Linked DNA regions of Homo sapiens. The protein of the gene in region 1 interacts with the protein of each later gene in a biochemical or structural test. Each region holds a gene or a part of one and is shown on either strand. Other genes may lie near its edges.

Region 1 (3,582 bases):
GGCCAGAGGCTGTTGCAAGGGATTCCATAGCCTAAACTGCGAGGCAGTCAGGCTGCACTCTGAGAGCAAGAAGGCACAGTTCAGAGGGAGAGGCCCCATTTCCCAACCCCAGTCTGAGGAGTGGCCTAAAATCCTAATTCCCAGGCCATCTGATACACTAGGCACAGAGCACACTGTGTTTCTCCACACAACCCCCCACACCACCTCCAGCCCTTCAGCTCTGAGGTCACAGCCATGGGGGCCAGGTGAGCCAGAAGCCTCGTGGTCAAGAGAAAGAGGTAGACAATTTCCAACTCCCATGAGAAACAGTAGGCTTCAAAGAGGAGCAAAGGGGATCCCCTGTGTGTTGGGGAGGTGGGAGGAACAGGGTCCTTAGCTCTCATCACCCACCAGTGCCCAGTACATAAGAGCAGGGGCCCAGGATGAGCACACAAAGGGCCACCACCAACCAACAATTCAAGGACACAAGGACACCCACAAAGAGGCACCGCAAAGACTTATTGGGATAGTAAGATGAATAGATTTAATCATTCTTGTTTGAAAAACAAGACATAAATTAGTATATATATAATTTATATATTTTATGTAGTATATATACTATATACAGACATTAGAAAATGTTTCCTCTCCATGAGGCTGAGGGAGAGGTGAAGGATGGCGGTGGAATGACACAGGCAGGGGCTGAGTGGCGAAGTTGGGAGAAAAAGAAGACCATATCAGCACTCCAGCTTGCAGTGGCTGAGGGGAAAAGGATTCCCCACTGGCTGCATCTCTGGCCCATTCAACAACTTGGTCCTGGGGGAGGAGAAGCAAGGAAGTGAGGGGCTGGATTCTGCAGAAGAAACTCCCCTCCTCCTTGCCGGGAGAACTCACCACTCAGGGAGACTTTATTGCACTAGGGGCTACCAAGGATGGGCAGGGATTAAGCACAGTGTACATCTTTATAAAACTCACATCAGAATGAAAGATTTCACATGGGCCTCTGACACAGTGATGAAACAGAGGCAGACACAGGGCACAAGGGTGTGGGAAATGGGGAGATATGGAGAGGCGGACGAGAAGCAATCTATACAGAAGAAACATTGGCTTTCTTTGTTCCCTACAGTGGGACAGTTGGTAGGGACTCCGTGTCTTCACTCCCAGGAAGGTTGCGGGGGTGGGGGGCGTGGGGGGAGGGTTGGCAGCGGTGGTGGCGGTGGTGGTGGCAGCGGTGGTGGCAATAGGAGGTGTGTGTCAAGGTGGATGTTAAACAGTGTGAATTCCCTTCCAGATGGCTCCAGAGAGGGAGAAAGGTGCAGGACTGCACCGGGTAAGGCGCTCAGCTTCTTTTCTTAGAGAGACAAATCCACAGGGTCAATACACAGCCAAAAGCATATACTCAGGATTAACATATCACGCTAGCTTCCAGAAGTTTAAGATATAGTCATCAACACCCCCCACCCCTACCCCTTTCCCCCCTCCCCCCACCCCCCTCCCCGATCCACAGCTAAGTCAAACTCCCAAGGACAGTCTGTCTGGTAGAGAGATGTTGAGAGAGAAGCCTCATGCCTGCAGCAACAGCCCCTGAGCTGGGCTGGGCCGGGCTAGGCGGGCTCCTAGGCCTGCACTGGGTCTCCCCAGGCAGACGTTTTCATCAGGTACCTTACCCAAAATGAGTGGGGTGATCCCAGATGCTTGCTCCCTAGTGGACTGAGCTGCCCTGCCCATCAGTGAGGGGCAGGGCACTTTGGGGATGGCTGGTGTGGAGCTACTGGACCTGGAGGTGAGGGCTCACCAGGCTGCCGGCCAGTTGGGCCGCTGCAAACAGCCTAGTGTGGCTGTTTTCTGCAGACATCTCACCCAGGCACAGGCCCTCAGGGTGGCATCTACCAGGTGAGTGTGAGCCCAAGGTGGATGGGGACATCTGGACTGAGCGCCCTCTCCCCTCGGCACGGCAATGTGGCCTGCTGCTACTGCCACTGCTCCCAGCAGGGGAGCCGATGCCACGAGGAGCTCAAAGCCTGAGGGTCCGCTTGCTTCAGGCCCTGGCTCCCCCAGCGCCCAACACGGATTGAGCAGGAAGTGAGCCTGATGTCACCTCTCAGCCCCAGAGAAGAGATAAAATACAGCTCTGCTGTGAGCAGAGTGAAGAGGGGCCTTTGCCCTCACAGTGAGGCCCAGAGGCCAGGGAAGGGGTGAGGACACCCAGGGCGGCAGCTAAGCCTGCAGCCCTTAAGAGAGAGCCTCAATCAAGAGAGTTTCCACTCCCCGGAGACTGATGGGCTCTTGGACCCTGACTGGCCCAGCAGACACACACACACTCACCACAAGATGCAAGGACCACAAAGCTCAAACCTGGGGCCATGGTTGGGGAAGGGGGACAGGTGTGGGCAGATGCCCTACTTAATAAGGGTTTTTAAGGAGTGGGTGAATGTGCTCATAACAGTCGCCGAAGTTGGGGAGCCTGGTGGATGCTCTGTGGCTGCCCCTGCAGCTGCTGCCACCTGCTGCTGCTGCTGCTGCTGTTGTTGTTGCTGCTGCTGTTGTTGTTGCTGCTGCTGCTGTTGTTGTTGCTGCTGCTGCTGGTTAAGGTTACGGGCTGTGGACTCCTCAGCTGCACGCAGCAGGAAGGTGTAGTTCCTCACCACCTCTTCTACCTTGGCCAGCAGCTCTTGGCGCTGGGCCTCGGAGCGCACAATGAACACCAGCCGCACGAAGGTCTCAATGAGGCTGCTCAGCACCTGGAAGCTGCCCGTGATGGCTGCCAGCATGTGAGTTGGGCTCTTGTCCACATTGGCCACACGGCGGCAGGAGGCCCGGAGCTCCTTGAACTTGAGAGCTAGCTCAAGCTTATACTCGGAGATCTGAGACACATAGGGCTTGGGGGCACGGGCCTCGGGGCTGGCCACACACTGCCGCAGGACTGTCAGCAGCTCGTTGGTGTCCAGCCGGGCAGCCAGGAAGCCATCAGGGAGGCCATAGGCATGGGCCCGCAGGGCATTGATCTTGGCCAGGCTCCCCTCGAAGGTGGACACACGGAGGTCAATCTCCTGAGTGCGGGAGGCCTCAGGGCTGCTGCTGCTGCAGGTAGCAGCATCCAGCACCTGCAGGGTCCTGCTCACCACAGGCACCACCTGCTCGTCCAGCTTCATGCCAGGCAGGATCTTCATGGGGATAGAGTAGGAGAGCTCATCCTTGCCATCACTGGCATCATCTGCCATGTCACACTTGCGGTAGTAGAAGCAGTAGCGGATGGAGCAGCACTTGCTGCTCTCACTGTCCTCGTCTAGCTCGGCAGGCTTCCGGTACACCTCCTCGGGCAGTGAGAACACGGCCATCTGTCTGGGGCCTTTGGTCTCTGGGGCAACCTGGACGTAGGAGGGGTCTCCCAGCGTCGGTGACTCCAGAGACCTGCTTTTGGGACCCAAGGCTATGGGGAGGCTTGCCTCTACCTCCTTGGCCTCCCTGGGCAGCATGCCCAGGGGAGGATGTGGGTAGACATCCGAGGTCAGCGAGGCCCTGTCACCCTGGTCCAGCTCACTGATACTGTAGCGGCGCATCAGTTTCCTGTAATTGGGAGCTCCCAGACACTCGCCCCCCGAG
Region 2 (4,571 bases), on another chromosome or scaffold:
ATACTGTCCACACTGGCCTACATATTCAACACTGTTCCTATCAAAATCTCAGCTGCCTTTTTGCTGAAATTGACAAGCTGATCCAAAAATTCACATAGAAATGCAACCAGAATAGTCAATGCAATCTTTAAAAAAATTTTTTTTTAATAATTAGTCTCTGGTTATCCAGCCAATGCAATCTTGAAGGAAGGCTCATACTGATTCCAAACTTATTACAACAAAGCTGAAGTAATCAAGACAGTGTGGAAGTGGCATAATGATGAACACATAGTATCAACAGAATAGAATTGAGAGTCCAGAAATAATTCTTCATTTTATGATCAAGTGACCTTCAACAGGGTGCCAAGATGAAAGTCTTTTCAACAAATGAAGCTGGAATTACTGGATAGTTACATAACAAGAATGACATTGGAGCCCTCATGCCATATGCAAAACTTAACTCAAAATGAATTACAGAACTAAACATTAAGAACTAAAACTATAAAATTATTAGAATACAAGTAAATCTTTGTGACCTTGGATTTGTTGCCAACAACACAAGTAACAGAAAAAAATACTGGTAAACTAGATTTACAAAATTTTAAATTTTTGTGCTCAAGGGACTTCATCAAGAAAGTGAAAAGAGGCTGCATGCGGTGGCTCATGCCTGTAATCCTAGCACTTTGGGAGGCAGAGGCGGGTGGATCATTTGAGGTCAGGAGTTCAAGGCTGGCCTGGCCAACATGGTGAAATTCTGTCTCTATTAAAAATACAAAAATTAGTTGGGCATAGTAGTGGGTGCCTGTAATCCCAGCTACTCAGGAGGCTGAGGGAGGAGAAACGCTTGAACCTGGCAGGTGGAGTTTGCAGTGAGCTGAGATCATGCCACTGCACTCCAGCCTGGGCGACAGAGCAAGACTCTGTCTCAAAAAAAAAAAAAAAAAAGTGAAAGGAAAAGCCACAAAATAGGAAAAAATACCTGTAAATCATATATCTAATAAGGGACTTGTATCTAAGCTATATAAAGACCTTTTTCAATGACAAAAAATATCACCTAATTTAAAGATGGGAGAAGAATCTGAATGGCCACTTCTCAGATCAGATATACGAATGGCCAATAAGGACATGAAAAGATGCTAATCATCATTAGCCATTAGGAAAATGTAAATCAAAACCATAATGAGATACCACTTTACATCTATTAGGATGGCTAAAATCAGAAACAAGAACCCTAACAAATGCTGGCAATGGAAAGGATGTGGAGAACCTAGTGCCTCCATACATTGCTGATGAGAATGTAGAACTGTGCAGCTGCTTTGCAAACAGTCGGGCAGTTCCTCAAAAAGTTAAACAGAGCCTGAGCAACACAGTGAAACCCCATCTCTACAAAATATAGAAAAAATTAGCCAGGCGTGGTGGCATGCACCTGCAGTCCCAGCTACCTGGGAGGCAGTGGTGAGAGGATGGCTTGAGCCTGGAAGGTGGGAGGTTGCAGTGAGCTGAGATTGCACCACTGAACGTCAGCCTGGGCAACAGAGGGAGTCCGTCTCAAAAACAAAACAAAACAACACAAACAAAAGTTAAACAAAGTTACCATATAACCCAGCAATTCCACCCCTAGGTATATAACCAATAGAATTGAAAATATATGTCCACACAAACATTTGTACATGAATGTTCATAGCAATATTATTCATAATAGCCCCAAAGTTAGAACAGCCCAAATGCCCATTAACTGATGAACGGACAAACAAAATGGGCAATAGCCATACAATGAAATTTATTTGCCCATAAAAAGGAATAAAGGATATATGCGACATGATGGACGAACCTTGAAAACACTACACTAAATAAGACAAGTCACGTACAAAAGTATCATATAGTATGATTCCACTTAAACGAAAATAGGTAAGTCCATAGAGTTATAATAGAAAGTAGATTAGTGGTTGCCAGAGGCTGGGTGGAAGGGACAAATGGGGAGTGGCTGCTATTATGGGGTTTTTGGGTGAAGGGGTGAAAATTCTAGAATTAGACAGTGGTGCTGATTGCACAACTCTGTGAATATACTAAAAACCATTAAATCATACACTTTGTGGACTTTAAAAGGGTGAATTTTATCATATGGGAATTTTATCTGAATAAAGCTGTTATTTAAAAGTTGAGAGAAACTGAAAGGTACATTCAGAGAAGGAAGAGTTAGGGACAGGGCAAAAGGTGGAAGGGACAGTGCTAAATTGATAAGCTGAGCAAAAAACAAGAGTCTGGGCTTTAATTCCAGAGTCACTGGGAAGGAGCCAACAAAGGTTTCTAAGAAATAGTGACTGACAGGCCTCAGAAACGTGGCTCGAGGACGATTAACCTGCAGCAGTGTAGAGAATGCACATTTTATGACCCTATCTTTGTAAGATTTTCACTATATGCCTCACATTGCAAAGAGATTCACAAGTGGAATAACATATAAAACATATTTCTCTTACATCAGTTATACAGTCAATTATCAAGGAATAAATGATATTTAAAAGGACATTTAAAATCAGCACACACTTAACTACCATTCTCTCCCGTCTGTGCACACATGTTTTAGGGAAACTTCAAAAGAATGGGAGAAAGAAGGGACCAAAGTCAACAAAACACAGACGTCATAACTCTAAAAATATTCAATATTATTGCAGCAAACTGCTCAATAAGTGCTCCCTGACTGAAAACCACTAATAAGAACAGCAAAACAACTGAGTTGGCTTAATCTTGTTTGTTATTATACAAAATCCAATCAGTCACTGTTTGCAGAAAATATCTTGTAAGGTTCAAAGTATAAAATTCTTCAACCAGGTTTCAATCTGTTTTGAACATTCCATTTGAAACGGGAAGTCAGCTGAGTCATCATCACATAATATACTACTGCTAAAAATTCAAAATGCTTTTCCCTAGTTACAAGAGTGGAAATGCTAGGATTTCTCCTTCATAGCCAACTCAAACACACAGAGTATGCAAATCATTTTTAAAATAAGACATCTTAAATAGGAAATTTAAACTATATTTATTTTCATGGGTGGCTTTTTTTTAAGATGGAAAGAAGCTATGCCTTAGTCGAATATTACTTCCTTTTGAATCTCAAACATCTTCCTCTTATTGATACTATTCAGCTCCTCTGACAACCTCCTCATAAAGAAGCAGTTTCTTAATCTTTGAGGAGTAATGACCCTTTGAGATCTAATGAGCACTAAAGACCATATCTGCTTTTGTTGTGGGGTTTTATTTTTATTTTTATTATTTTATTTTGGCATACATTCAATTTTGCAAACCACTTCATAACACCTGTGGTCCCTCTGTGGCATCGGGATGAGAACCCTTGGTCTGGTGGCACCGTGCCACTCTAATTTCAATGGGGCATTCTTTTAAGAAAGCGTATTACAAGCCCAGCCCCAATGTTTCATTTTCCTACCAGGGTTATCAGTTCATCACTGGTCAAAGCTGAAAACAAGCAACTTTTATGTCCCACAGTAAGGGAGCTACCTTTGGCATAAATCTTCATAAAAGCAGTAATCATTATGGCTGATCGATTTAAATACAAAGACCTGTAATTACTGTAACCTCAAATATTTAAAATTACATCTCGGTTTAAACCAATTGTTTGGCATTTCCTAAAATGAAAGAAACACCAAGTCAGTGTAGAAGTAAGAATATTGGATAACCTTTCGGTTAATTTACTTCAAAATGCTGTGGGGAGGGAATACTGAAGACAAACACATCATCACCTATGGGATACTCCTGCCAAAAAGGGTCAACCTGAACCTAATCATACAGACAAGACCCAAAAAATGCAAATTTCAGTCTGCAAAAACAACTAGACTGGACTATTTCAAAATGTCATTGTCAAGAGAGAAGCAGAAAAGGGCAGGAAAATGCTCCTAATGTAAGAGAAACTTCAGACACAACTAAATGCAACCCAGGATACAGCAATTGAGTGAAAGAACAAATACAACTTTAAAAAAAATTTTGAGAAAATTGGGAAAATCTGAATAGGGACCAGACAGAATTGTAAAGTTAAACTTCCTGTGGGTGATCATTTGATTGCTGTCAGGTAGAATGCCCTTATTCTGTGAGATACCTACTGCCATACTTTGGTGTGCAATGTCACGATAGAACAAATGTGGCAAAATATTAATAATCACTAAAACTAGGTAAAGAGATACAGGTATTAGTTGCAACATTTTTCCAATTTTGCTTAAGGTTAGAATGATTGATTATTTATTTGAGACAGAGTTTTGCTTTTGTGCCCAGGCTAGGCTGGAGTGCAATGGCGCAATTTCGGCTCACTGCAACCCTCGCCTCCCAGGTTCAAGCGATTCTCCTCCCTCACCCTCACAAGTAGCTGGGATTACAGGCATGTGCCACCACACCAGGCTAATTTTGGTATTTTTAGTAAAGATGGGGTTTCACCATGTTGGTCAGGCTGGTGTTGAACTCCTGACCTCCAGTGATCTGCCCACCTCGGCCTCCCAAAGTGCTGGGATTACAGGCATGAGCCACTGTGCCCGGCCAATTTTTTAAAATTTTAAAATGAGATAGGGATTTCTGTTTTTTCAGTGAGA
Region 3 (4,571 bases), on another chromosome or scaffold:
TTGTATAATCTATGAGGAAGGGGCTACAGTTTATTAATAGTGCCTGGGGGTTCAGTGGCTTTTCAGCTGTTATTTTATGTTGTCGTTGAGATTGAGTGTTTCTGGTTGGATTTTAAAATTGAGATGACCGTACTCGCTCTGGCAGCACCTATACTAAAACTGGAATGATTAGCATGGCCCCTGCATGAGAATGACATGTAAATTCATGAAGCATTCCATTTTTTTTTTTTTCAACATTTTTACAGACACTCGGGACTACTGGGAGTGGGGAGGAACAAGGGGTGAAAAACAAACTATTGGGTACTATGCTCACTACCTGGGTGACGAGAGCAATCGTATCCCAAACCCCGGCATCACATAACCATGTAGCAAACCTGCACATGTACCCCCAAATATAAAATAAAAGTTGAAATTATAAAAATAAAATAAAAGAAAAATAAAATTGAGATAACCGAAGAGATCATTTAAAAAACACAAACCCATTGTAAGTGCTTGCAGGCTTTGCTCCTACCTGTATCCATCTCATCCACATTGCTGAGGAAGTCCTCCGGAGTTGTGGGGACACTGTAGCACCCTAACCCCAGGCCACTGTCAGTGCTCTGCTCCCTCGAATGATATGGCCCTCTGCAAAGCAAAAGATGAAGAAACTTCAATATGAGCCCACTAAATAAATCTCAAAATTAAAACACAGTCACAAAAGCTCTAAACTAGTGCAGTTGTGCCATGCTGCCCAACTTTCCAGGTTAGGGAGGAAGGAAAGTTTTAATTTTGAAATACATACCCTCATGAAAATGAAAATAATCATGTGTGGCCATTCACAGTAAATTGACATTGATTTCCTTTTCACCTCAAAATAACCATTTGAACATTCTTCAACATACAGAGTATGACACCATTTATGTAAAACTTTAAAAAAAAAAAACAAAAACTATGTTGAATATTGCTTATGGATACATACACTAACGGGCAGTAAGGGGTATAAAAGTCTGTGTGATGGACACACGCCAGTTTCTGAATAGTGGCTACCACTGGGGACAGAAGGGAAAAGAAACGAGATTTCAGTGGTGGGGGGATGGCTTCAAATATTAATTGTAATATTTTATTTGTTAAAAAGTAAGATTAAATAAAACTATGGCAAATCTGGGTAGTGGGTACATGGGTAATTCATGTTATTCTTTGTACTTCTCTGTGTTTCAAATACTTTAAAATCAACAATTTAAAACCTCCATTAATTATTATTTCAGCTACTATTTGTTTTTATCTCTATCTTTAATAATGTTCATAATTGTATTGTTTGTTTGCCAGACGTCTCTGCAAGGGCAGAATAAAAGGCACAGGAAATACAGAATTGCCCTTTTTATTTGATTTAAAAACTACTTCTGCTCATGAAGATATTTCTGGCTAAATTCTCTTTCCCTTTTGCTCCTTTGTTTTAATTACTTTTTAAATTGTGAAATTATTTTAAACTCACATAGAAGACGCAACAAGAGTACAGAGCGTTCCCATGTACCCTTCACCAGCTTCCCCAGTGATAACATCTTACATAACCATAGTGCAATTACCAAAATCAGAAATCTGACACTGTAGAATATTATTTACTAAACTATAGATCTTATTCACATTTCACCCTGAACATCATCTCTTTTCTTTTCTTTCTTTTTTTTTTTTTTGAGATGGAGTTTCACTCTTGTTGCCAAGGCTGGAGTGCAATGGTGCAATCTCGGCTCACTGCAACCTCCGCCTCCCAGGTTCAAGCAATTCTCAGCCTCCCGAGTAGCTGGGATTACAGGCATGCACCACCATGCCCTGCTAATTTTGTATTTTTAGAAGAGACAGGGTTTCTCCATGTTGGTCAGGCTGGTCTCGAACTCCCAACCTCAGGTGATCTGCCCACCTCGGCCTCCCAAAGTGCTGGGATTATAGGCATGAGCCACCATGCCTGGCCGAACATAATCTCTTAATTGTTCTGTTCTCAATTTGCCATATGGCATGCTTTTATCCCCTGTTGGTTACATAAAACCAGAAGATTCTTCCAAGTATAAGTACTAGACGACACCATCATGTTTAAAAATATAAGTTCATGCCCATTTTCAAATTCTTGACTAGGGGTTTACTCTACGTCCTATCACCAATTTTTTAATTTGGAAATTTTTTAACAGGCAGATGATTTCCCCTGCTTTTCTTTTTTCTGCCAGCTCCTCCCACTTCCTCCCTTTATTCTCACCCTCAACCCTCAAGCTCCCCACCTCTTCCCAATGTAAACAAAGATCCTATTATAGTCTAGATCACATAATAAAGAGAATAAAAATAAGTGGCCCCCAAATATTAACTTACCCATTGAGGAAAGGATCTGAGCTATTATTAGTGATGGATCTCATGTCTGGGGTCATCGTGGGTGGGTTGACAGCAGCCTGAACTGGGGCAAGAGTCTCAGCTTCCATGGGGAGCTGTCGACAGAGGGCAGCTTCCTACAGTCAGAATGGGAAGCAAGAGTCATGCACTCATTGTCACAAGGCATGGAGCAAAGTGTACTTCACATCAAAACTTTTCACCAAATACAAAGCACTGTGTATTTACTCCCAGCAAGTCAAAATCACCAGGCAACCATTAGTATTCTTTCTCCGAAGAAAGTCTTACAGACATAAGTCACTTCACATTCACAAAGTTAATGGGAAGCTCAGCTATTATTTGATCTAAGGGCACTTAATGTTGCAATCATCCCACCCATGCAATTATTTAAACACCCAAATCATAGAAAGCCCTCTCAAAACACTTTGTCAGAGACAAGGCTTTTTCTATCTCAGGTTCTCAAACCAAATCTACATCAATCAAAGCAATCAGACTCCTCTGGACTATAAAGTACATTCTGGTCTTTGCCACTTACAGGCCAGTAAAACTGTGGAATTACAGAGTCCAGGCTCTACATTAAATTGCATCTGGCAGTTTTATGTTTACAGACAGGAAAGCAAAACAATGAGTTGAAAGTTTACTTTAAAAAGTCAATCAGTGGCCAGGGGTGGTGGCTCACGTCCATAATCCCAGCACTTTGGGAGGTCGAGGTGGGCGGATCACTGGAGCCCACAAGTTCGAGACCAGCCTGCAACATGGTGAAACCCTGTCTCTACAAAAAATACAAAAATTAGTTGGGTGTGGTGCTACTTGGGAGGCTGAGGCAGGAGGAGCCCTGTGCCTGGGAGGTTGAGACTAAAGTGAGCAGAGATCACGACACTGTACTCCAGCCTGGGTGACAGAGTGAGACGCTGTCTCAAAAAAAACAAAAAAACAAAAAAGTCAATCTATTTGACTACTTTGTTGACTAAAATGCTGAAGGTTGGGGAACCATGTAGATCCAATCCAAATCCCACAGACAAGTAACTGTTTCACAGCATATGGATTTCATTAGCAGAAACAAATAATACAAGCATTATTTTATAAAAGCTAGCATTACATTGCTAAGAAGAGTCTATCCAAAAGGCTACAAATTTACTGACTGCAACTACTTTCTCTAGGTATAATCTCCAGGAGTCTCTCCATCTTGACAAACATAACCAGACATCAAATTCCTTTCAAATTTGCTGATGTTTCCAGAGAATACTTTTGTATGTTTACATTTGCATCCCAAACCAAGGTTAGGCCTTTCCCCATATTTATGCCTATCAGTTTCCCACTTTCCATGCTGAAGTCATTGGTCTCACTGTCCCTCAAACCCTAAAACCATGGCTACAATGGCAAACAGAACATTTAGGACTTCTAAATTACAGTATCTTCGTTAGATCTCTTCCAGCCCTAACATGATGTGACTTTAGAGGGTAGCTGCTGTCTAGACAAGTCCTAGTGAAGTCATCGGCTATAAAAATTTTCAGTTACTAGAGTTGGTTGCACTGTTACAAACCATGAGAGACCTGATTGATTTAAAAAAAAACTGTATTGTTAACTTATACTGAAATAAATCTAGCTGGAAAGGGTCTTTGGCTCACTTCTGTTCATCTAGATTGCAAATAATCAAATACTTAACTAACAAATTTTATTCAGGAATCTACAAAAAGCAAACCAAAAACTGGAGATTTTTTTGGTAAAAAGTGATTTTCATCATCTAAATCTTGGAAGTGCCTTCTGAATAAACCTAGAAAAATCAAATTATTTTCTGATAGTTGTTTTTAACATGGCAGGCAGGGTGCATTAGAAACCTTATTATCCAACCAAAGTTTTCCTGAAAGCCTCAGAAGGAACAACAGGGATTGAATCTGGCATAAAAAGCCTGAGTCCCACCAGTCCCCATCCCTCAAGCACACTCATACACCCTGAGCCACAGTTTGAAAAAATGTATCTCATCAATGGTAAATTTCTAATACTTTATTAACCATAAATGCAAGAATCTTTTGACTCATAACCCTCATTATCCAAAAACATGAACTTTACTAGAATATTCCATTTTTCAACCATTCTGAATAAATGTGGGAGTTTACCTCTAAACAAATACACTTTTAATTTAAAAGTTGATGAGATGGCTGCATTCCTTTGTATTGAAAAAACTTTATCAACATATGTCTTAAGAATACAAGTTGAGGCCG
Region 4 (4,571 bases), about 57 Mb from region 1:
GTAAGCCTTTCTGTGGAGCTCTGGGTTTGCTCTTAGTACTGCTGCCAGAAACACTGTTAGAATGGCAACCCTGCCATTCTCCCCTCCAGTGGAAGATTCTACTTTATTCAGGAAGGCTGGTGGCTTGCAGGGGCTAGGCTTACACAAGCCAGCCAAGATTGAGAAGGTAGGGGAGTGCTTTCAATGGAGGCCATAGTTGTCATCTTTTCTTCTGAGCAGGCTCTAGGACAAACAATGAGCAAATTGAGATGTCCTGTATTGGGAGGATGAGGCTGATATGTTTCATCATTCTCAGAATTTGTGGGCTAGAGCACCTTTTTGGGAATATGGGCCTAGGGAAAAGAACGGTCACTTACCTGGACACTATGGCCATAGTCTTGAGTTTTTCTAGTCAGCATGTGATTGGTTGTACCTTAAGTTTATGACACCAAAAATACTATTAACTCTGTTATTTTTGTTCTTAATCCCATCTCAAATTAGTTTCTAGAGTTAGAATCAGAACACAAGGATGCTCATTTTCACATGGAGGGAAAGTTGCCAAAGCATTTAAAAAATAACCCCAAAAGTATATCTAGCAGTGAAGCTTGGTAGATAAAGGTGAACTGCTAAACAGACACTGGCGTGCCACACTCCTGCCAGGGCAGTCTCATTGTGTGTGACGGTGCTGCAACACTGCCAGTATTACTTGAGATGCAGTCTCTCTCCCCTGTTCTCAGTTCCTGGGCTCAGCCCTCCTCCAAGGCCTGCCAGTGAGTAGCAGTTTGGAAGGCAGGCCAAGGGAGATCCCCAAAGACAGTTATCAGTCTTAACTTCTGCTGTCTCCCGTCAAATACTTATACAGGCCCCCATGGGTAATAGGCAAGCATGATGGCTGATAGAGAAGTCAGTGCATGAGTTACTATCACATGTCCCCCCAACCCCTCCTGCCACCTCCCAGGGCTCTGGATAATTGAATCTTCCTGAGTCCCACAGCTGGAGACTCAACCAGGATATAGCTGTAAATGCCCAAGTAGAATCTGACAGAATAAGACAGAGACACTGAAAATAAAGCCCTAGAAAGGAAGAAATTGGAAGCAAAGAAAAGGAGAGGTGAAAAGATAAAAAGCCTCCTTCAAGGTTAGGTTCAGGTTCTGTTTTCCATTTAACCTCATGTGCCATAAAGCTGCCCAGGCACACCAGAGCCACATCCTGAACCCGACCCTCCCTGACAGTGCTGCTCTGCCAGTAGCAAGCCCCAGATGGAGGAAGCTGGGCCCATTTCTGGCCACTTCCACCCATTTGGAGCTTTGCCAGAGGAGTCGTCTATGCCAATAATATTTCTGCAACAGCATATTATATTATTTGAAGATTAGTAGATCTTTTTGGGGGGGTGGGGCAGGGGACAGTTTCTATAGATGAAGAACCAGTGTTGGTTGTACAGCTGTTGGGGGTCATCTATCCCATGTGAAGCTATTCTTTTTCCAAATCTTGTTGTTTCTGCATTTGTGTCCTCCACCACTCCCTTCTTGGCTGACATAGATATGCCTGCCAGATTGTCATCAAGGGTCATATTTCAATAAAAGGTGCTAAGGACAAAAAAAAATCTCATGTGTTTTAACTCAGGTGATGGAAGTCTAAAGATTCTGCTGAAAAGTACTGGAAAGGAATTTGGTCACCTATCCATAGTCCTTCACAGATAAACATATGACCAGACCCTTACCCACATCCCTAAACCCTTACCCTGGCCTCTGAGGGATGGTATTGATGCTATACCATTCATCATCCCCAGTTAAATAGCAGGATCTGCCATAGCCTTTTTAGGGGAACAGCTTTTAGACATCTATTTCAAGACCATCCTGAGTAGGGGGTACAGAGTTTAAGCCATTGGTTATTTCTGTTGTTATCACAGTATTGAAGCATGGTATTTTTCTACTCAGAAGGATCTCAGGATCACAGCCCTGCCCTTTAGCTCACTGATATATTTCTTCCTCTCTGGTTACTCAGTGGCAACATCACATCCAGTCTAACCCCATGTTTAGAATGCAGAAAAAGTCAACAATAGGTGTAATCTCAGGTATAGACCTAAGCAGTATACAGAGTCTAGTTCTGGAGTCTAGCCTGATCGAAGGTAAGCCATTCTTTCTAGACTTCTTCCAATCTTGAATTCTGTCTAGTATTTTCATCTTACTTCTAGCTGATAGTCCAATCTCACACCTTCATGCTCAGCTCCCTGGAAAGCAAGGGCCTTGGTGATCTGCTCTCCAAGGCAACCTCAAAGATTAGACTCAAATGTATTCCAGGAAGCAACTCTGACATTGAAAAGCTTTCTTTTTTCGTGATCCATATTCTGTTCACATTCCAACTATCCTCCTTCTACTCAAGATATCCATTGTGGTAGAGTAGAAAGAGTCCAGCTTTGGCATTAGAATGAACTGTGTTCAAATCCTGGTTCTGCCACTTATTCAATGAACCTGGGCTACTAGCTCAACTTCTGAGGTCATTTTCTTATCTGTAAAATGGGAACAGTATTATCTTGCTTGCAGTTATTGTAACTTGAAAATAATAAATAAAAGCCACTAACAATCCAAGAAGTTATTAGGCAGAATCCCAGGCCCACCCCAAACCCAGTGATAGCAGTCTGAATTTTAACTAGATTTCCAGGAGATTCATGAACATATTACAGCATGGGAAGTACTGACTTGTTGAAAACATATTCAGTACATGGTAACCATTATTATAGTCCTGATCTACTCAATTCATTTTTTCCTTATCCCAGGCATATTCTTGCTCTTCTCGTGTTGCTCACAACTACCTGCCTGGATGAATTTAGGAAAGTTGCAGGATACAAGGTTAAAACACAAGATCAAATGAACAATCCGAAAATGTTATTAAGAAAACAGTTCCGGCCGGGCATGGTGGCTCACGCCTGAAATCCCAGCACTTTGGGAGGCCGAGGCAGGTGGATCACGAGGTCAGGAGATCAAGACCATCCTGGCTAACACGGTGAAACCCTATCTCTACTAAAAATACAAAAAATTAGCCAGGTGTGGTGGCACGCACCAGTAGTCCCAGCTACTCGGGAGGCTGAGGCAGGAGAATTGCTTGAACCTGGAAGGCAGAGATTGCAGTGAGCTGAGACCACACCACTGCACTCCATCCTGGGCAACAGAGTGAGACTTTGTCTCAAAAAGAAAGAAAGAAAGAAAGAAAGAAAGAAAGAAAGAAAAGAAAGAAAGAAAGAAAGAAAGAAAACAGTTCCATTTACAATAGCATCAAAAAGAAAAAAGTACTTAGGAATAATTTAACAAAAGAAGTGCGAAACTTTTACACTGAAAACTATAAAACATTGTTGAAAGAGATTAGAGAAGATCAAAATAAATGGAAAGACACTCCATGTTCATGGATTGGAAGACTTAGTATTGTTAAGATGAAATGTGCCCCAAATTGATCTACAGATTCAATCCAGTGCTTATCAGAATTCCAGTGGCTTCCTTGTGTAAGTTTACAAGCTGATTCTAAAATTCATATGGAATTACAAGGGACCTGGAACAGTCAAAACAATCTTTAAAAAGAACAGTTGGAGGGCTCATACATCCCAACTTCAAAACTTACTGCAAAACTACAGTAATCAAGACAGTGTGGTACAGACACAAGGGTAGGTGTATAAATAAATGGAATTAAATTGAGAGTCCAGAAATAAATCCTCATGTATATGGTTAGTTAATTTCAACAAGGGTCCCAAGAGAAATTGAGGAGAGAATAGTTTTTTAACAAATGATGCTGAGACAACTGGGTATCTACATGGGAAAAAATGAAGTTTTCCTTAAATCACATGCAAGAATCAACTCAAAATGGATTATAGAATGTAAGAGTCAAAATTATAAAATTCTTAGAAGAAAACATTGTAATAAGTCTTCCTAATGTTAAGACGATTTGCACAAGTGATACAAGAAATAGAAATAAATTGGAGTAAATCAAAATTAAAAACTTTTGTGCTAAAAATATACCATATAAAAAAGTGAAAAGACAAGCAACATAATATTAGGAGAAAATATTTGCATATCAGATACTTCAAAATATGAAAAGGACTCTTACAACTCAATGATAAAAATAACCAATTAAAAATGGGTTAACAGATTGTAATAGACATTTCTTCAAAGAAAATATGTGTTTTAGTATGCTTGGGTTGCTATAACATACTACCATAGACTGATTGTCTTAAATAACATTTATTTCTCACAGTCCTGGAGACTGGGAAATCTGAGAGCAAGATGCCAGCAGATTCAATGCCTTGTGAGGGCCCACTTTATGGTTTGCAGATGGCTACCTTGTGGCTGTGTCCTCAGCAAAGACAGAAAGGGATCTGGTCTCGGCCAGGCGCGGTGGCTCACGCCTGTAATCCCAGCACTTTGGGAGGCCGTGGCGGGCGGATCAGGAGGTCAGGAGATCGCAACCATCCTGGCTAACACGGTGAAACCCCATCTCTACTAAAAAAAATACAAAAAAATTAGCAGGGCATGGTGGCAGGTGCCTGTAGTCCCAGCTAGTCGGGAGGCTGAGGCAGGAGAATGGCGTGAACCCAGGAGGCGGAG
Region 5 (4,571 bases), on another chromosome or scaffold:
GCCATTTAAAATACAGCCTATTTACAAACTTTAGCCAGTACACATCCAATTTCATCCTGTCCATGTAACTATTTAGTAAATTATATATGCCTTTAGTTGGCTGTTACATCATGATCCTTCTGTAAAATCCTGAAGGTTAAATGTTTTAAGCCAATTATTCTTTCCAACAAAGCATTTGCACTTAGAAAACAAAATTGATTCTTTCTTCAATTGTAAGTTTTGAAAAATATCTTCTTAAACTCTTCTTTAGTTCACTTTGGAGGTAGCTATTCATAATAACAGCTTGAAGTAACTGATTTTTTATGACACTGCAGATTTTAAAGCCTCCCCTGATAGTAGGAAATCTAGATATAAAGATGTGGTTGTTGGCTCTGAATTTGCTTGCTGAAGATCACATATTTTGGGTATACTGTAAAAATGTTGAAAAAATACAGAGGAGCTCCTGGGGGCCGTATTCTGTATTTACCTTGTGATTTAGGTTTGCTTGAAATACCCTCATAAACATAAATAGTGATATATGCTTTAATGTTTTTATGTTTAGGAAAGAGGTGAAATTAGATTCTGAGAATACTTTTACCAGGAAAAATTCCCCAAACATATATAAGTTTTTCCTTACCTTTTCTAGTACATTCACAACCTTCTTCATCTGCACTGGGATGGTGATCTGGAAATGTGAATCATAGAAAATGGCAGGCAATAGAGGTGTGACTGGCATACGCACTGTCAAAATTACTAAACCTGTGTTGTCTGGAACATCTAAGATGGAATCAAGTTACATAAAGTTTAGTTAAATTCAGGAAGGATTTGTTCACCTCTATGCATTAGATGTCATATTGAAATAGTATGTGAAAAGGAAAATCTTGCCTGGACTCACAATTTTTATTTACTGTTATAATGTCATCTATGCTGTTCAATTATAGTATTATTTGAAAGGAATACATGAAAAAAATAATAGGCACAGTTTGTATTGTTAAAAAAACAGTCTGTTAAGTGGTGAAATACCATGATATGCCAAATAAAATAATAACTCTAAGAAAATTGTCTTAAAATTAAAGGTGCTTCTATTTTTAATAGAAAAGGCTTGAAACCAACCCAAATGCCCATCAGTAATAGACTGGACAAAGAAAATGTGACAAGTACACACCATGGAATACTATGCAGCCATAAAAAAGGACGAGTTCATTTCTTTGCATGGACACGGATGAAGCTGGAAACCATCGTTGTCAGCAAACTAACACAGGAACACAAAACCAAACGTTGCATGTTCTCACTCATAAGTGGGAGTTGAATAATGAGAACACCTCAGCACAGGGAGGGGAACATCACACACCCGGGCCTGTTGAGGGGTGGAGGGCTAGGGGAGGGATAGCATTAGGAGAAATACCTAATGTAGATAACGGGTTGATGGGTGCAGCAAACCACCATGGCACATGTATACCTGTGTAACAAACCTTCACGTTCTGCACATGTATCCCAGAACTTAAAGTAAAATTTAAAAAAAAAAGTGCTTATTGTCACTTCTATATCATAGACTGAAGTAGTTATTTTGAACTAACAGAAAACACATGTGGATTAAATTTTATCACTGTTAACTGATTTTTTCTAAGCAGTCACCTCTTAATGGGAACCAAATTATTAAGTAACATAAGTACAGACTGTCTATATATATATGTCTTTTTCAGACATTGGTCAAAAATTTATAAACAGAACTACATGAAAAAATTTCAGCCTAATTATGTCACATAGTGAAATTATAGCATATTTTATGGGTCTTATTTTTAAAAATTTATTAAGTACGTGTTAAATAATGGCCTATGATGCATTAAATTACTTAATTGCTAATAAATTCTAACTTAAAATGTAAATTGTTACGTAGCATATTTGAAACATTTTTTGGTTCAAATAAAAATATGTCTGGACTATAAAATATGACTATCAGGTTTTCAGATTATGAAACTATTATACTAGCTTAGTGTTTTTAATGCCAACCAACTGAAGAAAACATGATTCGGGTGTTTTTTTCTATGTATTCATAGCAACAATAACACAATGAGTTCGATGCTGCCATCAATACTAATGTTACTAATTCTCATGGTATTTTACTCAGTGGATTTGAATGTGGCCATAGAATCTTTCTCCACACAATATGCCAGACAGCCACGTATAATCCCATGAGATTTGGTATTCAATATAAAACTTTACTTTTTTACTCAAGTTATATATATTGCCACCACCAGCAGTTTTTCAGCTAATAAAGTATACTTATGATTTAAGTCACTTGGTTAATGTCCTCATCCCTAAAGAATATGTTAAAACGAATGCTTAACTTATAGTAGAAGAGATTTTCAATGGCAGTAATGAAATTTCCAAAAATGAAATTTAATCATGCCTCATGCACTTCTGTAGTATATGTAAGTTTTATTTATATATCTTAACGTAAGCATTTAAGTTATTAAGTTATGACTAGTTAAAAGGAAATAGTAGCATAGTTAATTGTGTTTTTGTATGTCCACAGTACAGAATTAAGAATAACTATTTTGGCCAGGTGCGGTGGCTCACGCCTGTAATCCCAGCACTTTGGGAGGCTGAGACAGGCGGATCACGAGGTCAGGAGATCGAGAACATCCTGGCTAACACGGTGAAACCCCATCTCTACTAAAAATACAAAAAATTAGCCGGGCGTTGTGGCGGGCGCCTGTAGTCCCAGCTACTTGGAAGGCTAAGGCAGGAGAATGGCGTGAACCCAGGAGGCGGAGCTTGCAGTGAGCCGAGATCGCGCCACTGCACTCCAGCCTGGGTGACAGAGCAGAGCGAGACTCCGTCTCCAAAAAAAAAAAAAAAAAAAAAAAAAGAATAACTATTTTATTGTGTCAGTTGACAAAAATAGTACCGTGTCAGAGATAAAAATGTGCCGTGGTGGGGTATTAACATTGCTTCTACCATTAAGAACATAAACAAAAACAACCTTATTCCAATATTCTAGATACTGAGGGGGTTATTTTTGTGGAATTGATTCCAAAGACAGGGATGCTTGATCAAAGAAGATGTTTAGTTTTTGGCTAATAAATGTTGCCTGATTGAGTTCCACAAATTCTGTAACAATTTACATTTTCAGCATCAATCAATGAGTGTCCTTTTCTAGAACTCCAGGCAGCAGTACATATTATACTTATAAAACGTTCTGCTTGTATTACGTAAATAGCTAATATTTGTTGTGTTGACTTCTTATTAAATGTTTCTTCCCAGCCTTTCAAATCAGGCACTACTCTTTATGTGTACTAGGTCATTTATTTCTTATAACAATGCTTCAGTTTGCAAATGAAAAAATCAGAGACACATGGAGAAGTAACTTCCCTGGGCCACCAGCTTGGCCTATTTCCAGGTCCAGTGCTCTTCACTGTGGCATAGCTGGCTGAGAGTGAAGTGCTGTCTCTGTGTTCAAGTTCTCTAACTAAGAAGTTTCAGCTTACATCTAGGCAACATTTTAAGGCTTGATTGCTTGTATATAAAGGAAAAAGCCTATTGGCATAATGTTTCTATCTTTTTGTTTACTTATTCCTTGATGACACTGTCATATGTTCTGGAGACTTAAAAATTACATTGGTAAAAAATAAAGAAATATATTTGAAATAAAGAGAGGAATGCAGCTCTTTCAATGGTAGCACATTAAATCATAATATATATGTCATTTTTGTTCTTCTTCACAATAAGGTACTTTTGCAGTGTAGTTCTATCATTTGAGTACTATTGAAATACATGTAATAGTCATGTAGTGAAAACATTTATTTAAAGCTATGTAAAATATTTCTTAAAATGCTTTGTCAGGTATACATAAAAGCTGTCTTTAAATCAGTTCTCAGGAAATGTTGAAGTCTGTATCGAAAACTGTAAATATGATTGCTATTACTAAAGTTAAAAGATGGTAATTGTTTAATCTATAAGCACAGTTTTGAGTATTCATTTCATACAATAGCTAATCCATGAAGCTTTTCTTGAGAGTGCTGTTGAGAAAATAACTTTTTCCTTTGCTTTCATGGCAGTGGGAAAATATTTGTCTTTAAAATATTTGCCAGTCCTAATGCTTAAATATTTCTTGTATCCATCCGCTGCTCTCCATTCCTATCACAGCTTCTATAGTTAAGATTTTCAGCATTTCCCTCCAGGCATTAATTTAGTAGCCTCCTGGTATGTCTCCCGGATTCTAATCTTCCCCCTCTAGCTTATCATCTATATCTATGCCAGAAATACTTTCCCAAAACACAAATCTTGTTATAGTACTGCATTTCTCTAGTTCTTCCCTGTCTCTTAAATTTAGTCTCCTCCTAACCCAACATTTGCACCCTATAATCTAACCGACCATACTGAGATCTTTGCAGTTTCTCTAACACAACATGCTGTTTCGAATCATATTTCTCTTATACCTTGTTACATTTTGTCCCCTCCTTTCATTTTTCCTGTTTTATCTATGCTGTTTTAGAGGAAACTCATTTACGGTCCAAGCCTCAGAATCTTGGAGCAGACTGATGTATCAACACCTCCCTGTGGCAATTTGCTCTAATCACAGGTGAAAT
Region 6 (4,571 bases), on another chromosome or scaffold:
ACTCTGATTTTGCTTGATTCATATGAAAACTTAATGAGAAAAAAAGTATTCCTTCTTTGTAAATTTTATATGGAAGTAACTTTGGCCAGGAGTGGTGACACATACCTGTAATCCCAGCACTTTGGGAGGCTGAGGTGGGAGGATCTCTTGAAGCCCAGGTGTTCAAGACCAGCCTGGGCATCATAGCAAGGCCCCGTTTCTATTTAAAAGAAAGGTAAATTTGATTTAGACTTAGGAGATATGGAAACCACTGAAAATCGTTGGTCCTTGATAATCCGTATTTTATGGGGTATTCCTTCTCTTCACTCCATTTTTGGTAACAATTTCCTCGTCGGTAAAATGGATAATAGCTGTCTGAGGTTTTGTGGATTAAGTGAAAGTACATTATTTAGTGTAATGCCTAATGTTAGTCCTCTTTATAGCATATTTTATACAATTTCTATTATTTAACAGGCCTTGGGAATTCAAAGATGAAATGTGTGTCCCTCAAGTAACTCACTAATCTATTGTTATAAGTAGATTGTAATTCATGAGTGCTGTAACAGCTATCCTATGACAGCACTGAAGAGGATGTGGACTTCCTAGATGAATATGTATTGAGTTGTAGGGGAGTAAGAATTCACCTACCAGTGAACTAGTGGACCTGAAGTGGTATTCCAGATTGACCTACTGTCATATGAGTAGCACACCTGGTAAGACAACATGTGCAGCTCTTTGTTCAGTGTGCTGGGAACCAGGGGACTGAGGAGGGGGTAAGGAATGATTACTGGCATTTAGAAGCTCATGGTTTGTGAGGGTAGTGAGGAGACCAAGAGTTCTGTTAAAGACTGATGTTCATTTTCCTGGCTTGAGATGGCTGGGAAGCTGAATTACACAGTGGTGATGGATTAGAAATATTGCAGGAGTAGAATCTGCTGGACAGGCTGGCTGAATGTGTGCACGTTTTATATCTCATTATAGTAAAACTGTGTTTGAATCATACCAGTGCAGCCTAATTATGGCACAGGATGATCATGGATATTTCATAGTTCATAGGAAAAAATCCAAGTTGTTGAATATAGTTTTCTTGATTTTTAAGGTTTCTCACACTATTTTTTTCCCTTAAACATTAATGTCTTCTACTACATGTACATTCTGGGAATCTAGTTTGAAATATCTGGTTAATCATATAGTTAAACTAGGCCAGGTGCTGTGGCTCATGCCTCTAATCCTAGCACTTTAGGAGGCTGAGGCGGGTGGATCACTTGAGGTCAGGAGTTCAACACCAGCCTGGCCAACATAGTGAAACCCTATCTCTACTAAAAATACAAAAAATTAGCCAGGTGCCTGTATTCCCAGCTACTCGGGGAGACTGAGACAGGAGAATCACTTGAACCCTGGAGGCAGAGGTTGCAGTGAGCCGAGATTGTGCCATTGCACTCCAGCCTGGGTAACAAGAGCGAAACCCCATCTCAAAAAAACAAAACCCAAAACACCATCATGTAGTTGTACTAAATATATTTCTTAATCTGTAATGATAATGTGATTTCCAAGCATTTCATCATTTGGAAGAGTTGGAGAACTTCTGAATTTAAGCAGGCAAAAATGAACTTATTTATATAAAAACTCAAAATTGACTTGTGACGACACAATGTAATGATGGCATTGAGTCTTTGAGAACAGTTTTTTACTCCTTTATACCATTTTTTGTTTAGATAAATTAATTGATGTTGGTAAATTAGGAGAAGCAATCTGTAGTACATATAATTGATCTTGTAACTTTATCAGAGCTAGAATATATATTTATGTATTTATATAGTTAAAACTATGTTCAAGTGATTATGTCAGTCATTGTAGGAAGAAAAATAAGTTTATTGCCGCATTATTTTGACTTCTAGAATTTTTATCTTTTCAGGAAAAAAAAAAACCACCCTTGTTTTCACATGCAAAATCGCCACTACCTACTGAATTTTAAGAAGCGTGTGTTTCTTGCTGTATTCAGCTGTTTCCTTTTTCCCTCCAGTCTGTGAAAGAATTTACCCTTGGTGCGGTGGTGGTGGGTTTATTGGTTTTTGTGGAGGAAACAACTTGGTCCTTGGATTTTAAGTTGTCCTGGCTCCACCTCTTCTGTGCTTTCATATCCATTATGTATAAGAAGTGTTTTGGGAGAGTTAGTGTCAGTGACTTGAAGAGGAACTTTGTTTTGTCATTGGAACTAAACTTGTCTTCCGCTGGCTGTTGTTTCTCATTGCTTGCCTTCCACAGGTTGAAAATAATGGACTGTGGAGCTTTAGAATTAAAATAAGTGAATAAAAATGTACATTTCGCTGCCATTTGCAGTTTAGTTGACAAACCGACACAGTGTAATATCTGCCCCTTGGCACCTTTCTGTTCTTCTCTAGCTCATGGTATTTGTTTTCACCCAACATAAAAACGGAGAAGAAAGGTAGAGAACACTGAACGAGAATTAATCATTAGGTCATTCTGGGGAGGTCTGATAGTAACTTTCTTAGAAGCCAACAATCAGTGGATCTGAGAGGTTTATGGTACTATGGTGATTATCTGATTTCTCCTGAAAATTCATTCTAGAGTTAAGACTCATTATCTTTTAAAATGTATTTTATTTTTTAATGACCAGTCTTCAGTGGAATCATTATCTTTCTTAAACTTTTTAGCTTAAGATAAATGTAGATTCACATACAATTGTAGGAAATAATGGGGAGAGATCCTGTGTGTACCCTTTAACCGGTTTCTCCCATTAGTAATAGCTTATAAAACTGTAGTGTAATATCACAATCAGGATATTGACATCAGTGCAATCAAGAAACAAAGCAATTCCAGCACCACAAATGGTTCTTGTTGGACTTTTATAGCCACAGTCACTCCCCCACCCCACCTCTGGGGATCACTAATCTGTTCCATTTCTATAACTTTGTCATTTCAAAAATGTTATTAATTGGAATCGTACAGTATATGGCCTTTGGAGATTGACTCCCCTCCCCCTGCGCAGCATCATTAAGGCTTATTACCTTTTGGTTAAAATGAATTTCTGTTGTTAGTGAATAGTTTGGCCTTGTGCTTCTAAAATACCAATAATGTCTGAGGATTGGGGGGTTGGTGGTAAAAGGTGAGATGGGTTTAATAGTGACAATGAAGAGAAAGTTCTGTGATAATGCGTATAAATATAGAGCAAAGAGCATAAGGTCTTGGATGAGCAAGAGTTGTGATAGCATACCACATTTGGGAGATTTTGATATATGTATTTCCTTTTCATATTTTTTTTTTGTCATAATGGAAGTAGTAAGGTTAGCCTTAGCCTTCATATTCTCCAACTGAAATTTAAAAAATAAAATCAGAAGGAAGTCTAATGACTGTATATACAAAAGGGAGTCCCAATGGCCAAATTTGGGACAGTTTGAGAAGCAAATCATGACAGTAACGGACTATAACCCCTAGGGAAGAAAGTATCCATGAGCCCATACTGATATAAGTAAGTAGTTGAATAAATAAATAAAAGCAGGAGAAGAGACACCTCTTTGTTATAGAATTCTAATTAGAAAATGAAGGAATGATGGAAATAGAAAATCACCAGCAGGTAAACACCATAGTAGCAATTGTTACAGGCAGGAATCATCAATGGATGCCAAAATTAGTGGGTGAAGGTATGATGAAAAATATCATCATAGATCAGTATCATCAGGATATTTGCATAGTCTCAAAATATCTCCCCCACAAAATTAATTAACTATAAAGGAAAAAATCAATACTTAATAGTGAAGAAAACTGGTAATATCAAATTAACCAGATCATCAAAGTTAATATCATTAGTAATAAGACATGTCAACATCATGTGTCTGCTGATATAATGTATTGAGAAAGAGATATCTCTGGTATTCTTAACTAAAAATCAACCTAAGTGGAGCAAATATCAGATAGACTCAAATTTAAGGACATTTTACAAAATAACTGGCCAGTATTCCCTGAAAGTATTGAGGGTGTGGAAGATGAAGAAATGCCCAAGAACTGCCACACATTGGAAGAAACTAAGGACATGTGATAACCAAATGTAATGTAGGATTCTGGAATTGATCCTGGACAAGAACAACAACAAAAAAACATTATTAGGATGACTGATGAAATTTGAATATTTAGATAACTTTACCACAATTATTGTAGATGCTAAATTACGGGAAGCTGGGTAAACAGGGGATCTTTGACCCGTTTTTTAAATAACCTTTTTTACTCTAAAATTATTTAAAAATTCAAAGTTAAAAAAAGGAAGCATAGCTTTTGAAGTTTTTTTTGTGAACCTGAAAAGGGGATACCAAATTATTACTTTTTAAGACATCTTTTAGGCTGGGCATGGTGGCTCACTCCTGTAATCCCTGCACTTTGGAAGACTGAGGCGGGTGGATCACCTGAAGTCGGGAATTCGAGTTGAGCCTGGCCAACATGGCGAAACCCCTTCTCTACTACATATACAAAAAATTAGCCAGGAGTGGTGGCGCATGCTTGTAATTCCAGCTACTTGGGAGGCTGAGGCAAGAGAATCACTTGAACCCAGGAGGTGGAGGTTGCAGTGAGCCGAGATT
Region 7 (5,264 bases), on another chromosome or scaffold:
ACCTTGTACCTGAGATCTCCTCCCTCCCCTTGCCTCTCAACACCTCTGCCTCCTCCAGGCATCCCTCCCGATTGCAAAAGCCCAGACATCTTTTCTCATCCTCTCTCCACCCCAAGGCCCAAAGCCCATTGGGATGTCTAGGGTTAAGACTGTCCCATTCTCTGCTCCTGGCTAGGCTGAGAAGTGAGGGAGGAGCCAAGGTGGGCCCAGGCCCTTTGCAGAGCATCCCCTTCAGTTCCCATGCCCACAGTCTTACAAGTCCTGGTTATCTCCTGAATATCAGCCTGCTTTCCACTGCTCCCTCCCTGTTGCCCCAAACTCTCTGCTCAGACCTTTGGGACAGCCGCCTTCCTGGTGTCACTCCCTCCCCACCATTCTGCACATCACAGCCAGAAGGACTGCCGCTGCCTCCACCCAAATGAGGAACAAAATCTTCCTGTGGTTGCAAGGCCCTCCACGATCTGCCCTTATTCTCAAGTTTCTTCCTGGCCCAGAATAACTGCTGCCTCCTGCAGGAAGTCATCTCAGCCCTGCTGCCACCAGCAGAAATGAAAACAGCTCAGGCTTGCTGGGTACTGTCCAGGGCCCGGGCACGGTGCCACACCCTCACCTGCATCCTGCTGGATCCTGACAACCATGTGTGAACTGGTGCTCAGGTTCTAGCTCCATTTCACAGAGGAGGAAACTAGGCACAGAAAGATTAAGTAACTTGCCCAGGTGACACAGTGCATGCAAAGCTGGGATTGATTGATCGTTTGATTTTTTTGAGACAAAATCTCACTCTGTCACCCAGACTGGAGTGCAGTGGCGCAATCTCGGCTCATTGCAACTTTTGCCTCCCGGGTTCAAGCTATTCTCCTGCCTCTGCCTCCCGAGTAGCTGAGATTACAGGCGCCCGCCACCATGCCCAGATATTTTTTGTATTTTTAATAGAGACGGGGTTTCACCATGTTGGCCAGGCTGGTCTTGAACTCCTGACCTCAGGTGATCCACCCATCTTGGCTTCCCAAAGTGCTGGGATTACAGGCGTGAGCCACTGCACCCAGCCAGAGCTGGGATTGAAACCCAGAGCCAGGGCACTTAGGTCCTTAGAGAGTCCTTGCTGCACCTGGGTGCCCATCACAGGCCTCCCGCCCCTATGGAGGGCCCCACCACACTCCTCCTGGCGCCCCCCTTTAAAGCTTCTTGGACAGCAGCTGGATCCTGTCCCCACTTCCCCCGCCAGGTGATCCAGTGGACAAAGGTCAGTGGCCCCAGAGGAGGTAAAGCAAAAGACCCAAGCCCTGGCACCCACCTGGCATTGACAGGTGTGCTTGGGTTGAAGAACTCCTGGGTCACCAGGGTGGCATACCACGAGACAGCAGTCAAAGTGCAGAGGCCTAAAGACAAAGCAGAGGGGCGCTCAGCTCTGCTCTGGCCCCCCGAGGCCACTGGGGCTGGGGCTGCCTGCCATGGTTGTGATTGTGCAGGAGTGAGGGGCACTCACCTGCCAGGATGAAGAGGGCTCCCCCGGCGATGGCAACACGGCCCTTGGCAATGGGGTTGCTGTCTCCCACCCGCGTACACTTCATGCCAACTACGCTGAGGACCATGGCCACGAAGCCCAGGAGCACGGCCACCACCATCAGGGCCCGCGCTGATTGGATGTGACCTAGGGTGGGCGGGATGACACTGAGTCGGGCTGGCGGGGATGGGGGTTGGGTCGGTGCCTGGGGTCGGTGGAAGGAGCCCAGCTTGAGAGGGGCTTGAGCAGGAGCTGGCCTGGGGGGTCAGACCACCTTCTGGCAGGTGCAGGATAGTGAGGAGTGACAGCCCGGGCATGAGGACAGGGTGTGGGGGTGAGAGTCCCCTTCACTGTCAACGCCATTCTCCACTCGCCCTTGCAGGCTTTTCCGGTAGTATGATTCACTCTGCTGTTGCTTTCTGGCCTGGGGACTCCCTCTTGGGCTTGGCCCATCCTCCCAAGCAGCTGAGGGCAGCTCCAGGGTCCCCTCAGGTTTGGTAGGTGGAAGAGCTGGGGGTATCTGAGGCCCAGCTCAACTCAGCCTGAGCCCCGCAGCAACCCCTCCCCAGCAGCCATTCAGACAACAGTCACTTTCCCCTCTGCCCATGGCAGCTGGAAGCTTGCCTCTTCACGGGTGCATGGGTCCATCCTGGGCCCTGGGGGGTGCTCAGGAGACCTGGGTCCCTCAGCGAGGCTAGATGACCTGCCTGAACTGACCTGCCTGAACTGGCACAATGGGGCTGGTTGAAGGCCGCTCTGCTCCCAGCTCCCATGGGGAGCAGATTGTCCCTGGGGGCTCCTGGGCAGATTGCAGGTGGATCACCTCCACCCCAGAGTTAGAACTTCGGCGGTGCCTGTCAGGCTCATCTCCACACCCCAGAAGGAGAGGGACTGCATGCAGACACACCTGTCTGTGCATGCATGTGCACGTGTGTGCGTGTGCATGCGTGTTTGCATGCATGTGCATGCACCCATATGCTGGCACACAGGCCTGGGAGCAGGACTAGGGAGCAGGTGTGCATCATACAGTGTGTGTCTGTCTACTGACTGTGGGGAGAAGTGGATGAAGGGTCTTAACTGAGTCTTTCAGAGTGCCACAGGTATTAGTATTCCCCTTTAGAGATGAGAACATCACAATGGGAAGAGGTTTGGTGACTAGTTCAAAGTTATAGTGACAGAGCAGGAATCTGGACCCACAGCCGCCAGACCCTAGAGCCCTCCCCTCCCACAGGGCAGCAGGCTGGCCTGGACCGTCAATGGGCACAGGGCAGTAGTGGGGGAATTGTAGAGCGGAGGCTGGAGGTTGGAGCCCAGCGCAGATAGCAGACTGTGAGGAAAACTTGCTCCAGACTCCCCTGCTGTTCCCACCTCCCATCTCCCACCCCGCCGGCCTGGGGCCTACCGTCCAGGGCGAGCAGCGAGTCGTAGAGCTTGCACTGCACTTGCCCAGTGCTCTGGGAGGCGCAGGACATCCAGAGCCCTTCATAGAGGCCCACGGCAGTGATGATGGCGTCGCCTGCGTAGGAAGACTGCTTCCACTGTGGCAGGGCTGTGCTAGCAATGATGCCCACCCAGCCACCCAGGGCCAAGAAGTAGCCCAGGAGCTGGAGGCCTGAGTTGGCCATGGCCCAGGAGAGAGGACCGAGGGTCCCAGGACTCAGAGCTGGGCCAGGGTGCCAGCAGGGGCTTTGGTCATGGCCAGGTGGGAGGAGCAGCTGGGCAGGGGGAGCAGCGAGAAGGAGGGTCAGAGGCAGAGAAGGAGAGGTGGTGCGGCGGCAGCGGCTGGAGCAAAGGCAGTGGCTCTGGACTCCAGAATGCAGGGGGAGGCCCAGGGGCTGGAAAAGGCCAGGGCCCGCCCACAGCAGCCGCCTAAGCCAGAGCAGGGTCCCCAGCAAAGCTCATGCCCAGCCCCCTGGGGGCGGAGGGCCGGCCCATGGCCCAGGTGGTGTCCCTGCCCCGCCCCGTTCCGCAGGGATAGGGAAGGGAGGGGCTGAGAGGAATGACCCAGCTGCCCTCTGGGCCTTTCCCCACAGGGAAACCCCTTTAGGAACCTGATTCGGGTGTCCTAAAATTCGGATAATCCCTAACCCAAACACCAGCCCTGGGAGGATGGACTTTGCTCTTGCAAGGCTGATCTAACCCTTGGGGTTTTCTGCCCTTTGACTTTAGGACAGAAGGGAAAGGAATGCCAGTTTGCAGCGGGTAAAACTAGAGTTAGATGTCAAGGATAACTTTTTGGCAGGGGCTCTGAAGCTGGATGTGGGGAGGCTGAGCTAGCGGTGGGGTGTTGGGAAGAGGGGTCATGGGTACCTGGGAGCTGTGTGTGCCAAAAATCAGGGAGGCCAGACCAGGAAATATGTACTGTGGGGTCTTTTTGAGATCTGAGGGGGACAGAAAAGGGGCCCTATCGAGGCTGGGCCAGCGCTGGCTGCCGGCCAGCAAGGGGCCTGGTGGGGAGCTGGGGAGACAGCCCCAACCTTCTGGCATCAGCCTGAAGGAAGGCGGATTGCTCAGCCCCTTAATCCCCTTGCTGGCTGGCTTAGTAGCTCCTGCTGGGACTGGAACACTGGGCCCTGGCCCCCAACTCTAGAGCAGCCTGGCGCGGAGCAGTGGCCTCTGCACATTCCCGGGGTTCAGGCTGCCCGCTCCGAGCACCCCCACCTCCCTCTTCTCTCTCCCAGTCTCTCTTGGTCTTCAGGAGTAGGGGAATGTTTAACTCTCTTCCACCTCATTAGCAATCCCCTCACGTTCAAGTGGGCCCCACTGCAGCGTGGGTGCAGAAGGAATGTCACAACCCTGCTTCCACTCCTGCCAGCCCCCCGCCGCCCCCTCCGTCCCCAACAGCCCACCCACCCTTCCTGGACTGCACTGGGGGAAGGCAGGGTCCTGCTGCAGACCCCTGCTGGCTTCCTCCCCCACAGCCCCAACCCCCCTCTGAAGGGACAAGTCCCCAGCCCGCTCTTGCATTCTTCACGTGGCTATGCAAACGAGAGGGTGCCAGGCGCTGAGCAGACAATGGCAGCCCTGTGTGCCCGCCCAGGGCGTAGGCCTCTGGTATGGCCTGCAGCTCTGGCCAGAGATGGGGGAGTGGTCTGCCATCTGAGGGTCAAGGGTGGGCACTGCTTGACCTGTGGTGGTGCACACTGGGACCCTCAGGCTCTCTGTGCTGGGAGGGTCAGAGCCACGTGGATCCGAGCACACACAGACCTGCTTCCTGGACGACCTGTGGGTCCCAAGACCAAATGGGGTCTAGGACAGTGGCAGAGAAGTAAGTCCTGAGCTCAGATTCTTCTACCACAATGACAAGACAGTAGGATTGAGGGGAGCCTCCTCCATCCTACTGGGGCCGCAATGGGCACCCTGTGACCAGTGCATTAATTTAAGCATGTGGGCCACTGTTGCAGGCAGCAGGCCTCCTAACAGTAAGGAGACCACGGCAGAGGGAGGTAATAGACCCCCAGCCAGGAAACAGCAGGAAGGGCTTTCCGCTTGAAACTGTGTGGTGCTGGCCCCTGTGGTCTCTCTCCCACACTCCTCCCTTTTTGAGGGAGGCACCAGGTCCAGATTGAAGGGGGCTGCGGGCAGTGACAAGATGCTCCCCAGGGGTGACCTGAATGACTGTGGTGCCTCAGGGTCCTCACTCTAAATGGGAGGTTTGCTTCATGGAGTTGTGGTGGTCCGTTAAAGTAAGCGATGTCTGGGGAGGGCAGGGGCCTGGTGCTGGGTAGCTGCTCCGCATATGCTCCTCCAAAGGCAAAGT

What was found.
Region 2: the proteins of FRMPD3 (region 1) and TNRC6A interact in a test that uses a peptide from one of them, tested with the Homo sapiens proteins (one large-scale study listed by IntAct).
Region 3: the proteins of FRMPD3 (region 1) and WWTR1 interact in a test that uses a peptide from one of them, tested with the Homo sapiens proteins (one large-scale study listed by IntAct).
Region 4: the proteins of FRMPD3 (region 1) and SHROOM4 interact in a test that uses a peptide from one of them, tested with the Homo sapiens proteins (one large-scale study listed by IntAct).
Region 5: the proteins of FRMPD3 (region 1) and CNTNAP2 interact in a test that uses a peptide from one of them, tested with the Homo sapiens proteins (one large-scale study listed by IntAct).
Region 6: the proteins of FRMPD3 (region 1) and RAPGEF2 interact in a test that uses a peptide from one of them, tested with the Homo sapiens proteins (one large-scale study listed by IntAct).
Region 7: the proteins of FRMPD3 (region 1) and CLDN19 interact in a test that uses a peptide from one of them, tested with the Homo sapiens proteins (one large-scale study listed by IntAct).

The regions. Positions count from the first base shown.
Region 1 is NC_000023.11:107,602,170-107,605,751, reverse strand, and holds the end of FRMPD3 (FERM and PDZ domain-containing protein 3), read right to left. Parts: coding exon 2,379-3,582; 3' UTR 501-2,378; downstream 1-500.
Region 2 is NC_000016.10:24,735,832-24,740,402, reverse strand, and holds part of TNRC6A (trinucleotide repeat-containing gene 6A protein), read right to left. Parts: intron 1-4,571.
Region 3 is NC_000003.12:149,525,502-149,530,072, forward strand, and holds part of WWTR1 (WW domain-containing transcription regulator protein 1), read right to left. Parts: intron 2,469-4,571; coding exon 2,335-2,468; intron 625-2,334; coding exon 512-624; intron 1-511. UniProt on the Homo sapiens protein: Transcriptional coactivator which acts as a downstream regulatory target in the Hippo signaling pathway that plays a pivotal role in organ size control and tumor suppression by restricting proliferation and promoting apoptosis.
Region 4 is NC_000023.11:50,590,329-50,594,899, reverse strand, and holds part of SHROOM4 (protein Shroom4), read left to right. Parts: 3' UTR 1-4,571. UniProt on the Homo sapiens protein: Probable regulator of cytoskeletal architecture that plays an important role in development. May regulate cellular and cytoskeletal architecture by modulating the spatial distribution of myosin II.
Region 5 is NC_000007.14:146,122,756-146,127,326, forward strand, and holds part of CNTNAP2 (contactin-associated protein-like 2 precursor), read left to right. Parts: intron 1-4,571. UniProt on the Homo sapiens protein: Required for gap junction formation. Required, with CNTNAP1, for radial and longitudinal organization of myelinated axons.
Region 6 is NC_000004.12:159,109,126-159,113,696, forward strand, and holds part of RAPGEF2 (rap guanine nucleotide exchange factor 2), read left to right. Parts: intron 1-4,571. UniProt on the Homo sapiens protein: Functions as a guanine nucleotide exchange factor (GEF), which activates Rap and Ras family of small GTPases by exchanging bound GDP for free GTP in a cAMP-dependent manner.
Region 7 is NC_000001.11:42,736,935-42,742,198, forward strand, and holds the start of CLDN19 (claudin-19), read right to left. Parts: upstream 3,303-5,264; 5' UTR 3,130-3,302; coding exon 2,907-3,129; intron 1,652-2,906; coding exon 1,487-1,651; intron 1,380-1,486; coding exon 1,295-1,379; intron 1-1,294. UniProt on the Homo sapiens protein: Forms paracellular channels: coassembles with CLDN16 into tight junction strands with cation-selective channels through the strands, conveying epithelial permeability in a process known as paracellular tight junction permeability.